3 separate regions of the Homo sapiens genome follow, and regions 1 and 2 are each linked to region 3. The links come from fine-mapping of genetic effects on gene expression. A gene starts in region 3. Each other region holds a variant in brackets. All regions are shown on one strand. Distances are from middle to middle. Region 1 overlaps IFT88 (intraflagellar transport 88). Region 2 overlaps IFT88 (intraflagellar transport 88). Region 3 holds the start of IFT88 (intraflagellar transport 88).

Region 1 (5,000 bases), 110 kb before region 3:
GGATCAATTGAAAACACTGAATGACTTTCAAAAATTACCAGGGGACATTAATTGGATACAACCTGCTCTAGGCATTCCTACCTATGCCATGAGTAATCTATTTTCTATCCTTAGAGGAGATCCTAGTCTCACTAGCCCTTGTCAATTAACAAAGGAAGCTGAGGCAGATTTACAGCTGATTGAGAAGCAAGTGCATACAACTCAAATAAATAGAATAGATCCAACAAAGACTTTAGACTTGCTGATTTTTCCGACACAGCATTCACCTACTGGTGTTATTGTCCAAGAGCAGGACTTGGTAGAATGGCTTTTTCTTCCACATGCTAATTCACAGACTCTAATTCCTTATTTGGATCAAATTGCTACTCTGGTAGGAAATGGGAGAACCCAAACTGTTAAATTGCATGCATATGACCCTGGAAAAATTATTGTCCCTCTTACAAAAACACTAACACAACAGGACTTTATAAATAGTCTTGGCAAACCCATTTAGCTGATTTCGTAGGTGTTCTTGATAATCACTTTCCGAAAACAAAATTATTTCAACTTTTAAAATTAACTAATTGGATTCTCCCTGGAATAACTAAATCTAAACCAGCTGTAGGTGCTGAAAATGTTTTTACAGATGGGTCTAGTAATGGTAAAGCTTCTTATTCAAAACGTAAAGTTTTCCAGACGCCCTATACTTCAGCTCAAAAAGCGGAGCTTGTAGCTGTAATTGAGGTGCTGACTGCTTTTGAGATGCCTGCCAATGTAATTTCTGATTCTTCATATGTGGTTCATTCCACACAGTTAGTTGAAAATGCTCAGCTACAATTCCACACAGATGAACAACTGATGACTTTATTTACCCAATTACAAACCACAGTTAGGAACAGAATGCACTCTTTTTACATTACTCATATTGGAGCTCATACAACTCTTCCAGGACTTTTGACTCCAAGGAATCAAATGGCTGATTGCCTAGCTGCTACTGAAATATCTAACGCTAGACACTTTCACAATTTAACCCATGTTAATGCCTCTGGTCTCAAACGCAGATACAGCATTACCTGGAAAGAAGCTAAAGCTATTATCCAGCGATGCCCAACTTGTCAAATGGTGCATTCCTCATCTTTTACAGGAGAAGTTAATCCTCGAGGATCGGAACCTAATTCTCTTTGGCAAATGGGTGCCACCCATGTTCCCTCGTTTAGGAGACTAGCTTATGTGCATGTATGTGTAGATACATTTTTCTCACTTTGTTTGGGCTACCTGTCAAACAGGAGAATCTTCTGCCTGTATTAAACGGCATCTTCTGCAACGCTTCACGGTCATGTGCATTCCAGCTTCTGTTAAAACGGACAATGTCCCAGGCTATACTAGCCAAGCTCTAGCTACATTTTTCTCTATATGGAATATTAAACACATTACTGGCATCCCATATAATTCACAAGGACAAGCCATTGTGGAACGAATGAATCTCTCCCTAAAATGACAATTGCAAAAGCAGAAGGGGGAAACAGGGACAGTGATTATAGGACTCCACACATGCAACTGAATCTAGCATTACTGACTTTAAATTTTTTGAGCCTATCTAAAGGCCAGATGCTATCAGCAGCTGAACGGCATCTACCAAAACCAGCTGCAAAGATAGAAGCGGAACAACTGGTTTGGTGGAGAGATTCGATAACAACGAGTTGGGAAATAGGTAAAATAATAACATGGGGTAGAGGTTATGCTTGTGTTCTCCAGGCCAAAACCAGCAGCTGATTTGGATACCATCAAGATACCTGAAAACTTATCATCAGCCAGATGCCAAGGAAGAGATTTTGGGAGGAACCCGAGGACCCCCCGGTTGCAGCCATGTTGAGACTGACAATAAGGAAGACACAAGTGCTGGCGAGCAACACTGGTCGGGCACAGCCACCCCCCTGGGGCCAGATCAAGAAGTTGACACAGATGGCGGAAGAAAATCTGAAGAAGGCAGGACAACCAGTTACAATGAGTAATCTAATGGTAGCTATGATGGCTGTGCTCACCATCGCCATGAGTATTCCCCCAGTGACTGCTGAAACAAAAGACAATTATACTTATTGGGCATATATTCCTTTTCCACCACTTCTACAGCCAGAAACATGGTTAGACCCCCCAGTGGAGGTATACACTAACGAAAGTTTTTAGATGCCTAGTTCTATAGATGATAGAGGCCCGTCTAAGCCCTAAGAGGAAGGAACTATTATGAATATCTTGTTGGGATTTGAGGATTTACCTATTTGTTTGGGAAAAGCCAATAGGTGTTTAGCTCCCAGTCATCAATCCTGGCTGGCGATAGTGCCTGAATGTAACATCTCCATGACACAATTACATATGCTTTCTGGTCTTAGTATTTATCACAATTATTATGCTCCTGTAACCGAAGTTTACCACCCTCAAAAACCTATCTGTAAACTGGATTGGACATGGTCAGCAAAAATGAAGGTATTTGCTTGGGAAGATTGTGT[C/T]GCAAGGCAGGCAGAGGTGTTGTGTAATGATTCATATGGAGTCATTATTGATTGGTCCCCTAAAGGGGCATTTATGAGGCTCACCTCTCAATCTGTAGCTAATGGTCACCCTGCATATAAACAAAATAATCAGATGGTGGACACTATAAGAAGTACAGCAAGAGTTCCTATTATTTGGGCATATGGTGGTATAGTGGTACCTCAACCCCAAATGATATGACCTGATGTAAGAGCTAAACATAAGGAGTTATGGAAAATATTAATGGCACTGAAAAAGATAAAGATTTGGGAAGGAAAATATACTAAGCCAACCCAATATAATCCTAATTACATGTTAGAATTGGCTCACAACAGTTCAGTCTGGATACATAGTTGTGTCTGTCCGCCTTTCCTGTTTGTAGTGGGTGATTTAAAACTTGATCTCCCTAATCATCATATGACTTGTCAAGAATATAGATTGTTTTCTTGTGTGAATTCTTCCTTGTATAATACTGATCATTCTATTTTAGTAGTAAGAGCCCGAGAAGGCGTATGGATACCTGTAAAGCTTTCCCATCCTTGGGAAGCCTCTCCTTCTGCGCATATTATTACTGAAATTCTTCGATAGATTTTGAGGCACTCTCGGCGTTTAATTGCCACTTTAATTTTAATCATTACGGGATTGACTGCTGTCACAGCTACTGCCGTGGTAGCTGGAGTTGCTCTGCATTCCACAGTACAAACAGCAGACTATGTAAATAATTGGCAGAAAAATTCTACTCTGCTGTGGAATTCCCAAACTAATATAGACCAGAAACTAGCTAATCAAATCAATGATCTCCGACAAACTGTAATGTGGCTAGGAGATTGAGTAGTTAGTCTAAAATACAGAATGCAGTTACAATGTGATTGGAATACTTCTGATTTTTGCATTACTCCTCATCTGTATAATGAAACAGAGCACGAGTGGGAAAGAGTTAGGAGACATTTAAAGGGTCATACTGGAAATTTATCTTTAGATATTGTAAAACTGAAGAAACAAGTATTTCAAGCCTCTCAGGCACATCTGACGCTAATGCCAGGAACTGAAGTGCTTGAAGGAGCTGCAGATGGATTAGCAGCTATTAACCCATTAAAGTGGATCAAGACACTTGGAGGCTCTGTGATTTCAATGATGATTGTGCTTTTAATCTGTGTTGTCTGTCTTTGTGTAGTCTGCCGATGCAGATCCCAAATCTTGCGAGAAGTAGCCCACCGTGACAAAGCTGCCTTTGTCTTTATCGCTTTGCAAAAACGAAAAGGGAGACATGCTGGTAGCAAGCCCTAAGCCTGTCATAAACAGGCCTTAAAGAAACTGGTCATAAACAGGATTTCTGCAGCAATGTGACATGCTCGTGATGGCTATCACACACACTGCTAGAAGTTGTTGGTTCACACTGCTAGAAGTTGTTGGTTTACTGGAGCAGGGCAAGGAAAACCTGGCCCCTCCGGAGCGGAAAACTGCTCAAGCCACAAACAATAGCACGAGCAGCCTGTGCCTTAACAACATGCTTTTGCTGCAGATAATCAGCCAGGGCCTGTTTCTCTGCTCCTTGCTAAAAATGCTTTGTTTCCTATAAGGAATGCTTCTAGCTAATCTATAATCTATAGAAGCAATGCTTAGCACTGGCTTACTGTCAATAATATGTGGGTCAGACTCTGTTCATGGCTCTCAGCTCTGACGGCTGTCAGCCCCCTGGTCCCACTCTGCACCCTATTTCTGTGTCTGTGTCTTTAATTCCTCTAGCACTGCTGGGTTAGGGTCTCCATAACTGAGCTGGTCTTGGCAAGTATGCATTGTTTTAGTTATTGGTGAGGCTGTATATTTCACCACCATGTGTGAGAGAATAGTTTATATCCTCTTCTCTACCTCCCTGCAACTCATTCACTTCTTAAATCATTAGAATCTGACTTTTACCTCTAACAGTACACTGAGACTGCTTTCTTTAAGGCTATCAAAACTATCTTAGTTGAAAAATCTAATGGCCCTCTGTAGTCTTCAAGGCCCAATTATAATACGTATATAATCATTTTTCAACATTCCCCTTCCCTTAAGCTAGGAAGTCTATCAACTGCCCCTATTAGTTTCTTATTTTTTGAAAGTACTATCTAAAATGAAACTTTCTAAAAAATTCTGCCCATTCCTTTGAATGTGTTATGAATATAGTGGTTCTTACTTTTTCAAATCTCTTCTTAAATAACTCTCTTTTGGTGAGCTATAAATTGATTTCATTATCCATTAGACACTTTGTAAAAGCTTTTTGGTCTGTCTCTCTCTTCTATTTTTAAGAAGATGATATTCAATTTAGCCTCTATTAAGATGCAATAATTAAGATCTATTCTCACTCCTTAAGTATGAGGAAGTATTTGTTTATATCTAGAAACACTGAAGAGCATCAGACAATAACTTTGGGACCTTTAGGAGGCCTTTACTGACCAATTTACTTCTAGGTGCTCTGTAATCTGACTTGCAAATGGCCTATCCTCTTATTACCAGGA
Region 2 (6,508 bases), 68 kb before region 3:
AGGCCTTCCCTCCTCCTTCAGGCAGGAGATTAAAGAGTCTTTTCTGGGAGGAAAGATCCAATTGACTTATGGACAGGTCTCCAACTAAACAGACCAGACCAGACAGATGCCCTATAGCAGAGTGCCAACCCATCAATCTCTCTCATGGACTTAGAGACTCCACTCAGTTTTTAGCCACAAACTCCTGAATACCAGGAGACAGCCCAAAATCATTAGACATCTAAGTAAAGTCCATAACATGGAAAAGAGAATAAAATAAGCAAACCAAAGAAAGCAAAAAATACCTAGGCAGGGAGAAGAAAACTTCAGAAGAAAAGTTATTAATAATCCAAGAGACAAGACCCAGTACTGCATGGACATGTGTTTGCAATACTGAAAATTCATGCCCAGGGGTGATGATGCCCATTTCAGGCAACCGCTGAAAGGCAGGGAAGAGAATGTGATGGTGGTGAGACTTCATGGCTTGTAGTATTTGGCTTATTAAAAACAAAATCTGAAGTAAAGATGGCAAAATGTGAAAATGTGTCAAACTGGGGTGATAGGTACATGGGTACTTATTTCTTGTGTGTACTTTTGTGCATGTTTGAAATTGTTCATAATTAAAAAGAAAGCAAATGGGATTTTTTCCCATCTATGAACTTGGCAAAAGTTAAAAAGAATGATAATATCCAGTATTAGCAGAAATTTGGGAAATTAGTATTATACACTGTGATGGAAAAGCCTTTTTGGAGGGCAGTATGGCAAGCCTGATCCAAATTTTGCATGTGCATAGCTTCTGAATCATTAATTCCATTTAAAATAATCTATAATCTGAGAGGCAGTAGTCTTCAATTTTCCGTTAGAAGGAAGTCAACTCCTCCTCCTAATGTGTTAGAGCTCTTTAAGCAAAACAAAACAAAAACAAATACAAAGCAAATAAATAATTTAAAAAGCAATTTCCCCTTGTTTCACTTACCAATATTATAAAGTGCTTCAGTACAAGAAGAATCATTTCTTAGAGCCTCTTTATAGAATTCAGCGGCCTTCTCATAATCACCATTTGCAAAAACTGTATTCCCTTTATTAGTAAGAGCTGCTGGATTATATCTATCAGAGTTCACAGCTATATCTGCATAGCTGCTGGCTTGTGCAAAATCCTTTCCCTAAGTAAAATACATATACAAATTATTTGAATTTCATGAAATACCTTTTCTGACTGTTCTGAGATTACAGACATAATAAATAGACTTTCTGAGATTATAAATGTAATGAACAAAAATATTTTACATATCTTGGTCTTGATAGTCTGATTCTACATAGAGTTTTACTTATCAGGCTGAACCACCCAAGTTTCTTGTGATTGACTTCTCCACAGTCTCATGGTTAGAATAACAACACTATTTATATGTAGGTGGTTCCATACTCAACGCCCAAATTGCATGTCATCATTTGCTGCAGCACTCCCCCTCCCACTTGAAGCCCTGAAATAGCTGTCACAAAAGCACTACCCTTCTTGCCCCTAGCACACTGGCTGCGTCACCTACTAGGTCTCTGCACTTCTAGCAATCCATTGTTTTTTTCCGTCTCCATGCCAAATGCTCGGTCAGGGCCTTGCCATCATTCACGTGAGCTACAGGAACCTCTCTGTTCTTAAATATTGTGACCATCTGTGCCAGGTCAGCTTGGTTAAGCCAGGAACTACATTTCCAAGAAGCTCCTTCACTATTAGCCTCTTGTCTAGACTTGGCCAAAAGAGGAACTTGTGTGACATCTGGAATGCAGACCTGAAGCAGTGGCCTTTAGTCTCAGAAAGCCTTTTTCTTGTCATCAGATGCAGGTCTGACACAGAAGTGTCCATGGGTACCAGCTTCTCCTCACTTACTCCACTCCAAGGGCAGCTCTTCTTCCTGACTATGCTGTCCCTGCTCCAAGATAGGGTTTGGCTGTGGTCCCCAGAGGAGGCAGCTGCACAGAGGCATCTGCTTCCCACAGAACTCCCCATGAAGGCCCTCTGGGTTCTACTGTGGCAGCTAGATATGTGTGGCCACTCACTGACTGATGGTTACTCCTCCTCAGATCTCCAGCTCCCCTTCTGCACCTTCACCGCCATGGCTCCTTCACAACTGTATAACATTAAATTCCCATGCCCCTTTTCCCATAACACTCACAGTGACCGTCCCTCGTTAAACTTTTTAAAAAGTTTAGATATAACTTATATATAATAAACCTGACCCCTTTAAAATGTAGAATTCTGTGGCATTTAGTAGGTTCACAAAGTTGTGCAACCATTGCCAATATCTACTTCCACCCTCAAAAGAAACCCTGTACCCATCAATAGTCACTTCCCATCCTCCTCTTCCCCCAGCCCCTGGCAACCACTAATCTGTTTTCTGTCTCCTTGCCTATTCTGGACACTGAATATAAATAGAATCATAAAATATGCAGTCTTTTGTGTCTGACTTCTTTCACTTAGCATAATATTTTTAAGGTTCGTCCATGTTTTAGCATGCATCTGTGCTGCAATCCTTTTAAAGGCTGAATAATGTCCCGCTGTATGGGTAGACCACATTTCATTTATCCATTCATTGTTGATGGACACTTGGGTTGCTTCCAGGCACCTTTATGGTTACTATGAATAATGCTGCCATGAACATTCATGTGCAAGTTTTTATGTGAACTCTGAAACAAAAATTGGTACCGACAAGTGAGGTGCTGCTGCTTAAAAACTAAAACATGTAACATTGTCTTTTGGACTACGTAGCAGGCAAAACTGAGAAAAGCTGTGAGGGCCTGTGTTGGGGACTGGAGAGATGGTGAAGCATGAGTGAGCCTGCAAAGGCAGAAGGAATCATCAGAGGCTGGATAAAGTGCAAACCACACTGTCACCATGAAGCACTGACACAAGTGGCACCCACAGAGTGGGATGGAGGATAGGAAGTGCACCTCATAAATATGCAACATGTGGCCAAGGGGATTTCTAGGTAGGATGCTGAAGGGCCAATGAACTTATTTTAACTGGGTATGATTGATCAGGTATAGGAAGAGAAAAATGAGCTAAGGAGAGAACTGTTTAGTTTGCAGGTAGAATTTAGAGAAAATATAGAAGAACCAGGACTTGCTAAGGTAGAAAATAAAATTACTTCATGTCTCCAGTTTCTTGTGGTGGCACAAGATTCTCAGATGGTGGCAGGTTAGGGAACAATTCAAAGGTGTGGCTGTAACACCTTTTGTAAACATCTCACAAAGATTTAAGGTCATACCTAGCAGACCTTCTCTCCCAGGTAGCGAAGTGGGCTTCTAAGACACTTCAAGGCTCTGTTCCATAGCAGCCTACACACCTAGTGGGAAGGGGTCTGTCCTGAAAAGAATTATGGATGCAGCTGTTGAGACATGTGGGAAAGCCCAACAAGATTTAGAGAAAACCCTCCAAGTTTTTAGGGGAGTTGTGCTGACTGTTGCTAGTTTGGATTAAAGGGACAGATATAGTCCAAAATGAAAAAAGCCCTCTATGCCCCAAATGTCTCAGGGCAGAACACAGGCTGAGAAAGTTAATCAGCTGCAAACACAGGCTATTTCTTTCCTTTTTTTTTTATTTTTTACTTTAGGTTAAAAACAAACATGGGATACATGTGCAGAATGTGCAGGTTTGTTACATAGGTATACACGTCCCATGGTGGTTTGCTGGACCTATCAACCTGTCATCTAGGTTTTAAGCCCTGTATGCATTAGGTATTGGTCCTAATGCTC[T/C]CCCTTCCCTTGCCTTCCACTCCCCGACAGGCCCCGGTGTATGATGCTCTCCTCCCTGTGTCCATGTGTTCTCATTGTTCAACTCTCACTTATGAATGAGAACATGCGGTGTTTGGTTTTCTGTTCCTGAAACATAGGCTATTTCTTATACAAAAGGAAGATGCTCTCAGAAGGCCGAGCCAAGAGCCACAGAGGACAAAGAATTAGGGGGCCACTCCGAGGGAGCAGAGCTGGGCCCTAATCAAGGAATATTCGTTTTTCTCAGACTAGGGAGCACTGGCCACACCTGCTTTGCTAGGTTTCAGAATCATTAAGGATAGTGACTGTGATGTGCCTCCATCCCTCCCCTTGGGGATGAGTGTCTTACAGTTATCCTGTCTTTATATCTCCATGGTATGTTGCATGTATGATGGGACAGGTGCCATGTCTTTTCATTCAGAAATTTTTGGATCCAAGTCCTTGCTATTGTGAATAGTGCCACAATAAACATATGTGTGCATGTGTCTTTTGCAGCATGTTTTATAATCCTTTGGAACAAATGTCCAACAATGATAGAATGGATTAAGAAAATGTGGCACATACACACCATGGAATACTATGCAGCCATAAAAAATGATGAATTCATGTCCTTTGTAGGGACATGGATGAAGCTGGAAACCATCATTCTCAGCAAACTATTGCCAGGACAAAAAACCAAACACTGCATGTTCTCACTCATAGGTGGGAATTGAACAATGAGAACACATGGACACAGGAAGGCGAACATCACACACCGGGGCCTGTTGTGGGGTGGGGGGAGGGGGGAGGGATAGCATTAGGACATATACCTAATGTTAAATGAAGAGTTAACAGGTGCAGCACACCAACATGGCACATGTATACATATGTAACAAACCTGCACGTTGTACACATGTACCCTAAAACTTAAAGTATAAAAAAAAAAAATAAAGAAATCTTTGGATCAAGAAGAAATTGTTCCTGAGAAAGCTCCATTTCTTCTTTTTTTTTTTTTGTTTGTTTGAGATGGAGTCTCGTTCTGTCGCCCAGGCTGGAATGCAGTGGCACGATCTTGGCTCACTGCAACCTCTGCCCTCCCAAGTTCAAGCAATTCTCATGCCTCAGCCTCCCGAGTAGCTGGGACTACAGGTATGCACCACCATGCCTGGCTAATTTTTTATATTTTTGGTAGAGACGGGGTTTCACCATGTTTAGTAGAGACGAGGTTTCACCATGTTGGCTAGGCTTGAACTCCTGGCCTCAAGTGATCCACCTGCCTCAGCCTCCCAAAGTGCTGGGATTACAGGCATGAGCCACCATACCCAGCTAGAAAGCCCCATTTCTATCCAGACCTGATGTAGATCCTGGCCTTTGAGCCTGATGCTGTGGTGGAATGAGACTCAGAGTCTTGGGAGGGATATGAATAACTGGGGTCTCAGTGCAGGCAGTGGTAGATTATTACAATAATGACTCCAGTGGATCACACCTCCCAGGATTCACGTACGACTCATTCAGGTATGATTCTCTCTCATGTTTGTTTTGTTCAACAAAATAATAACAAACTCAATGCGCACAAGAACCTAATACTCACCTGTGTACTGGGGTTTGCTCTCATGGAACCCAGTCCCACCTGAGAAGGCTGGGATCCCCTGCTGGGGATGCTCTGAGGGAAGACTGAGTTGCCCTGGACAACAGTTCAGCTAAGTGACAGGCATGAGGTAGGAATTTGGAACATCCAGTCTCAGTCATGCCTCAGAGGATGTCAGCTGCATGAGTAAGGCCAGGCAAGCCCAGTAAAAGAAGCATCCAGGTGAACCCAGCTCACTGGGTAGAATGTAAGCATATACCTGGTGATTTCAAGCCACTACGGTTTGGGGCAGTTCATTACACAGCAAGAGAAAACAGATACAACTATATGCCGGATACCAGCAATATATTTTCAACTACATATCATATAAAACTACATAGCAGACTCATCACTTGGCCTCAAAACATTCTTGATTACAACCATTTTCTTCAGAACCAAGTATAAGAAATTGCTGATGAGATGCTCTAATAGCTCTGCTTGGTTGATTAAATCTAACAATTCTCTTTGCTTCTTTAAATTTTCTATTGGTCTCCTCCTGCACAGTCGTCAAACTTGGTATAAAGATTTGGTGACGAATTGGGTCAAAAAATTCATTAGTGATTTTCTAAATTCAAAATTTAATGGCCATGATAGACACCATGCTTCACGCCATGGACTTGCCCGTCAGAGGTGCTGGAGGTGCTACTGGCCACCAGCCTCAGCAGGCAGCCCTCTCTGGAAACTGGGTGGAAGACAGAGGCACCTTGTCCCCCTTCCTAGAGGTGACCCTTTTTTGGGAGGCAGGCCACATCCAATGGCTGGCTGGGGTGGGGGTACAAAGGCCCACCCTCTCTCTTTTCCTGCCTCCTTGTGAAGAAGGTGCTTGCTTCTCCTTCACCTTCTGCTATGATTATAAGTTTCCTGAGGTTTCCCTAGCCATACAAAAATGTGAGTCAATTAAACCTCTTTCCTTGATAAATTACCCAGTCTCGGTTATTTCTTTATAGCAGTGTGAGAACGGACTAATACACCTTCTGTCTACTTGCTTCCATCATTACAAAAAATGTTTAAATATATTTAAAAAGAAACACAACATCTTTTCCCCCAATCAGCACCCTCCTCTAGACATGCAACTAACTGGTACCACTCTCCTACCAGTAGATTGAAGCACTGGAGTCATTCTTCAACCAGGGGTTTGGATCTCTTTCTTCATCTTTA
Region 3 (6,508 bases):
ACCTCACTAGTTCCAGTGAACTTTCTCAAAGAGCACTACATGACACTTCTCCTTTTGATAAACCTCCAACCTTCTCTTTGTTCTTTGGACATACCAAAGACCACCTGGTCCTCAAACTGCAATTCTTTCTTCCCAAATAAAAATGTAAAATTTCAAGATTCATCTCTACATTTTGACTTGGACAGAAGCATGGGAGAAATGAAATTACCATATAGATATACTGTAAATCTAATAATTACTAAAGAATCTGGCAAGGATTCCTGGAAGTATCATTCAAATCAAGTCAATATTTTAGGCAATTTGAGGGGTGGGAGGTGGAGGAAGGCTAATTACCCAAGAAATGTAGTATTGCTAGTATTCAAGAAATGTATTTTCTTTAAAGCAAATACATATTTTCTTAAGGCCTGTACATTTTAAGTGCACCAGCAAATTCCTAAGAAATTTTCAGCTTAGGCTGGGCGCAGTGGCTCACGCCTATAATCCCAGCACTTTGGGAGGCCGAGGCAGGCAGATCACGAGGTCAGGAGATCGAGACCATCCTGGCTAATATGGTGAAACCCCGTCTCTACTAAAAATACAAAAAAATTAGCCGGGCATGATAGCAGGCACCTGTAATCCCAGGTACTCAGGAGGCTGAGGCAGGAGAATGGCCTGAACCTGGGAGGCGGAGGTTGCAGTGGGCCGAGATTGTGCCACCACACCCCTGCCTAGGCGACAGAGCCAGACTCTGTCTCAAAAAATAAATAAATAATAAAAATAAATAAATAAAAAATAAATTTTCAGCTTAATCTTTTTCTCAGCATAATACCACATATATGTGGCTTCTCATAACCTTTAAAAATTATTTATATATTTTAAATACTAACAAAATTATTAGTTTTTGAACTATAATTCATATACCATACAATTTAACTTTTCAAGGTGCAGTGGTTTTTAGTATATTCACAAGGTTGTGCAACCATCCCCAGTATGTAATTCCAGAACACTTTCATCATCCCATAAAGAAATATGGGGCCTGTTAGCAGCTCTCCATGCCTCCCTTCCCTTTCCCCAGTCCCTGGCAACCATTTTCTGTCTCTATGGATTTGCCAATTCTGGACATTTCATATTAAGGAAATTACACAATATGTAGCCTTTTGTGTCTGGTCTCTTTCACTTAGCATAATGCTTCCAAGGTTCATCCACGCAGTAGTATGTATCAATATTTCATTACTTTTTATGGCTAAATACATCTGCAACATTTTGCTTATCCATTCATTAGTTAATGGACATTTGAATTGTTTCCACTTTTTGACTTTTATGAATAACATCACTATGAATGTGTGTGTACAAGTTTTAGCATGCATATATAGGTCCAATTCTATTGGGAATATATCTAGTAAAGGAATTGCTGGATCATATAGTAACTCTATGTTTAACTTTTGGAGGAACAGCTAGACTGTTTTCCAAAGTGGCTGCACTATTTTACATCCCACCTGCAATGCATGAAGTTTCCAATTTATCCATGTCCTAGCCAACATCTGTTACTGTTCCTGTTTTTGATTATTGCAATTCTAGTGAGTATGAAATGGTATCTCATTGTAGTATTGACTTGCATTCCCCTGATGACTAATGATGTTGAGTATCTTTTCATCTGCTTATTATCCATTTCTATATCTCTTTGGAGAAATGTCTGTTCAGATCTTTTGCTCATTTTTTTTTTTTTTTGAGACGGAATCTTGCTCTGTCGCCTAGGCTAGAGGGCAGTGGCGCGGCTCACTGCAAGCTCCGCCTCCCAGTTTCACGCCATTCTCCTGCCTCAGCCTCTCGAGTAGCTGGGACTACAGGCACCCGCCACCAAGCCCGGCTAATTTTTTTATTTTTATTTTTATTTTTATTTTTAGTAGAGATGGGGTTTCACCGTATTAGCCGGTATGGTCTCGATCTCCTGACCTTGTGATCCGCCCACCTCGGCCTCCCAGAGTGCTGGGATTACAGGCGTGAACCACCGCGCCCGGCCAGCTCATTCCCAAAAATCAGGTTATCACATGAATTATAAGGATCCTGTATATATTCCTGATACTAAACATTATATAAATGATTTACAAATACTTTCTCCCATTCTGTACATCATTTTACATTCTTTGTACTATCCTCTGAAGCACAAAAGTTTAAAAAAATTTTTTTTTTTTTTGGGACGGAGTCTCGCTCTGTCACCCAGGCTGGAGTGCAGTGGCGCGATCTCGGCTCACTGAAAGCTCCGCCTCCCGAGTTCACGCCATTCTCCTGCCTCAGCCTCTCCAGCAGCTGGGACTACAGGCGCCCGCCACCACGCCCGGCTAATTTTTTGTATTTTTAGTAGAGACGGGGTTTCACCGTGTTAGCCAGGATGGTCTCGATCTCCTGACCTCGTGATCCGCCCGGCTCGGCCTCCCAAAGTGCTGGGATTACAGGCGTGAGCCACCACGCCTGGCCAAAAGTTTTAAATTTTGATGATATACAATTTATTTTTCCTTTGGTTGCACGTACTTTTGGTATCATATCTAAGAAAGAACTGCCTAATCTAAGGTCAAGAATATTTATACCTATGCTTTTTTTCTAACAGTTTTAGCTCTTATATTTAGGTCATTGATCCATTTTGAGTTAATTTCTCATTACTTTTTGAAGATGAAAATTAACTACTATGAGGGCAAATGTCACCCACATAGAAATGGCATTCCAAAATAGCTTCAAAAGGTTATTAAAAGGGCCAGGCGTCGTGGCTCACGCTTGTAATCCCAACACTCTGGGAGGCCGAGGCGGGCGGATCACGAGGTCAGGAGATCGAGACCATCCTGGCTAACACGGTGAAACCCCGTCTCTACTAAAAATACAAAAAATTAGCTGGGCATGGTGGCGGGCGCCTGTAGTCCCAGCTACTCGGGAGGCTGAGGCAGGAGAATGGCATGAACCCGGGAGGCGGAGCTTGCAGTAAACCGAGATTGCCGCCACTGCACTCCAGCCTGGGCAACAGAGCGTGCGACTCCGTCTCAAAAAGAAAAAAAAAGGTATTAAAAGTCACTGGTAAAAGATATATAAAATATTTTTAATTAAAAGCTTTAGCTCAGATAATACTAAACCAGTGGTTCTTAAACCCAAGTGATGCTGAGGCTACTGGTCTGGGGACCACTTTGAGAACCACTATTCTGAACCATAATTTCTGATTATGAACCCTATTTAAGTCAGCTTAGTTGACACATAAGTTATAGAAGGAAGCAACTTTTAGAATGAGAAATCCTTTCTGCTAGGTTGTAACCAGATTTTTAAAAGGTTTGACTTGAGACTTTAGTTGAATAGACATCTTGTGGAACATACAAATATTAAAAGATGTGGAAAGTGAGGCCAGGAAAGTTGAAGGGAATCAAGCATGGCTAATAGCTATGGGTGGCAGAACAACTGTTGTTATACAACCCAGGGTTTCTGGATTCTCCAGGCAATTTCCAAAGCAGCTTATACATGTAACAAACTTTTCCATGTTGAAATAATCTGGGGATGATGCCACCTATGTTTAATATAAATCAAATGCTGGCAAAACCTTTTTTTTTTTTAAGTGAAAGGTATGTTTTTTAATACTCTTCTACTGACTATGGACAGTCTACTTCAAGCTTTTCCAACCCCGGCCCGCACGTGGCACAGGACGGCTTTGAATGTGGCCCAACACAAATTCGTAAACTTTCTGGAAGCATTATGAGATTCTTTTTTGCGATTTTTTTTAAAGCTCATCGGCTACCTTAGTGTTTGTGAATTTCATGTGTGGCCCAAGACAATTCTTCTTCCGATGTGGCCCAGGGAAGCCAAAGATTGGACACCCTTGGTCTACTTCCAAGAAGCCTACTGCAGTTTCTCGAAAAAAAAAAAACAAACAAAAAAAACTCACAACCAGAAAATCGGACTAGTAAAAGTGTAATTTTAGGCTTAGAAAGAATCTTGGGACAACAGTACTTCACGTTTTTGGAATGTTTCCATCTTTGTGAGGCTAAGTACCGCTTTCTGCATTGTTGTGTACTTTTATCTTCATTCCTGATTCAACTTTCATCAGGCAATTTGAAGTGCTTCACCTAACAAGAAAATTAAAGAGCGATGTGCACCATCTCTGCTGTGCGATTCCAGAGCTGGCGCAGTAATCTAACTGGGTTTTAAGTTTCCCCGTCAGGCGTGACTGGGACTTGGGACATCGCCAAGCGGTCAGCGACGCCCGTCCCAGTTCAGAGGAGCAAGAAAAGCCTGTGAGCTGGGGACACCGATGTGAGAAACAACGCCCGCGTTTCTGAGTAGACAACTCGGGAGCCTGAGGAAGAAAAGCAGGGGCAGGCCGAGTCCATCTGGGGCCCCGCCTCAGACCGCCCCGGGGCCGACAGGGGCGGGCAGGAGACGGGCGAAGAGGCCCTCGGCGGGATGCGCCACACAGGACGCCGCAGGGGCACGGCTGCCAGGGGCCCTGAGGCACTAGGCCCCAGCGCCCTTCTCCTACCTCACGCTGAGGGAAGCGGGCGACAGTTATTCGGGCCCAGGGACGACGCAGCGGTTGGCCAAAGCGCGACGCCGAGCCGTTGCCAAGCGCGGAATCCAAGGAAGCCGCTCCCACAGTCCTCCGCGCGGGGGCGGGCGGGGCCGGAAGCGCGGGGGCGGGAGAGAGCGCGGCGGGAAGGGGGTGGTGCGGGAGGCCTGGGGAAGTGGGTGGGGGCGGAGAACGGCGGGTCAGAGAGAAGGCAGCCCGGTCCCCCTCAGTGGAAGGGAGTGGCGGTGGGCGGAGGGTGTTGAGGGGACGGTGCCAGCGGCTTGCGGGAAGCCGGGCGATGCGGGTAGAACGGTGGAGGAGAGGGCAGGGAGGCCGGGGCCTCCCGTGGAACGGAACCGGGGGGTTGGGAGGCTGGGGGCGGCCTGTGTGAAGGGGGCGGGGAGGGAAAGGCTCGCGGCCAGTAGATGCAGGAGGGAGGAGGGCCTAGAGGGGCTCCGGGCTGGCGGCCTCTGTGAGGAAGGGGAAGGATATGGAACCAAGATCCTTTAAATCCTGATGAACTCATCCGTAAAGCAGATGCCCAAAGGATGATAGTAAGCTTACTGTGACATAACTCCCGGAGCCGCAGCACGAGCCTTGTGAACCTTGGAAGCCCGTTTTCCGCGCAGTCACTAACTCGCTTAGTCACCCTGTGTAAAAGTTATTCTGGGATGACACCTGCCTGGGAAGTCTCACCTTTCCCCCCACCTCCTCCTGTCTGCGTATTGTTCTGTAGCACCCCGTGCGCACCTTGATTGTAGCGCTTAAGGTGTCCGTTTTATTTACTAGACAGGGATTGAACCATTGTGTCCCAACCACCTAGAACCTGGGTCATAGTGTAAAGCTTAATCAATGTAATATAAATGGGGGAATTAAATTCATAATTGTTTAATGTTTAAGTTTTGTCTTAAATTTTAAAAGTAAATGTTGGGGATGGAGGGGAGGGACAGAGGGAGTCTAAAGACACCAGTAATTAATGAGTTTTTATAAAATAAGTAGTGTTGGCCGGGCGCAGTGGCTCATGCCTATAATCCCAGCACTTTGGGAGGCTGAGGCTGGCGGATCACCTGAGGTGAGGAGTTGGAGACCAGCCTGGCCAACGTGGTGAAACCCTGTCTCTACTAAAAATACAAAAATTAGCCCGGCGAGGTGGCAGGCGCCTGTAATAAATCCCAGCTACTCAGGAGGCTAAGGCAGGAGAATCTCTTGAACCCAGGAGGTAGAGGTTGCAGTGAGCCAAGATGGTGGTATTGCACTCCAGCCTGGGTGACAAGAGCGAAACTCCATCCAAAAAAAGAAAAAACATAGTGTTGGGGGACAATTCTCCATGGGTCACCTGCACTTTCCCGTGTTTTGTGAGCAGAGACACTGACTGCCTTTGTTCTGGAGTACTATGATAGCTGGTATTTTTTAAGATGTGATTAACAGTTAAATTAGACTTGAGTAAAGCAGTTGGTCCTCCACAAGGTGGGTTGGCCTCATCCCGTCAAGGGAAGGTCATAAGAGAAAAGACTAAGGTCCTCTGAGGAAGAAGGAATCCTGCCCCCAGACTGCCTTCAGCTCTTTCCTGGGTCTCTAACTTGACCTACAAATTTTAGGCTTGCCAGCATTATAAATAAAGTTTTGGTGCCGCAAAAGAAATAGCACTCAACTATAAAATTTTCTTTTTTCCTTCTCAGCAAGGCAATTTACTTCTATAGAAGGGTGCGCCCTCACAGATGGAGCAATGGTGAGCACACACCTGGACAAGGGAGGCGAAGGGGTTTTTATTCCTGACGCTTGTGGCACCTGCTGCTGTGTCCTTCCCCTGTTGGCTAAGGTTAGACGGCACAGGCTAAACTAATTCTGATTGACTAATTTAAAGAGAGTGACCGGGTAAGTGGTTTGGTGGGAAAAATAGTTATGGCAGAGCAGGAAATCGGAATGAGTCAGGGTGGAGAATGAGTCAGGGCAGAGCAGGTAATCAGAATGAGTCAGGGTGGAGCAGGTAGT

Evidence for each region. PIP is the estimated chance that this variant, and not a neighbour inherited with it, causes the effect. A credible set is the group of variants that fine-mapping cannot tell apart.
Region 1: its variant is the best candidate, but not a certain one, in a credible set for the expression of IFT88 in blood mononuclear cells (TOPMed, PIP 0.54).
Region 2: its variant is the best candidate, but not a certain one, in a credible set for the expression of IFT88 in whole blood (INTERVAL, PIP 0.71).

What each region holds. Positions count from the first base shown.
Region 1 is chr13:20,677,537-20,682,536 of GRCh38, reverse strand. The region is part of intron 24 of IFT88 (intraflagellar transport 88); the gene reads right to left. Among named protein-coding and RNA genes, the nearest start is that of IL17D, 24 kb to the left of the region's middle. The variant C/T (reference allele first, on the strand shown) is at 2,484.
Region 2 is chr13:20,632,966-20,639,473 of GRCh38, reverse strand. It overlaps IFT88 (intraflagellar transport 88), which reads right to left. Exons shown (of 26, transcript NM_006531.5): 17 at 956-1,142. Among named protein-coding and RNA genes, the nearest start is that of IL17D, 67 kb to the left of the region's middle. The variant T/C (reference allele first, on the strand shown) is at 3,727.
Region 3 is chr13:20,565,238-20,571,745 of GRCh38, reverse strand. IFT88 (intraflagellar transport 88) reads right to left here and starts at 4,589. Exons shown (of 26, transcript NM_006531.5): 1 at 4,490-4,589. LOC105370103 (a long non-coding RNA gene) reads left to right here and starts at 4,717. Exons shown (of 6, transcript XR_941725.3): 1 at 4,717-5,070; 2 at 6,196-6,245. RefSeq lists silencers at 4,196-4,384, 4,480-4,889.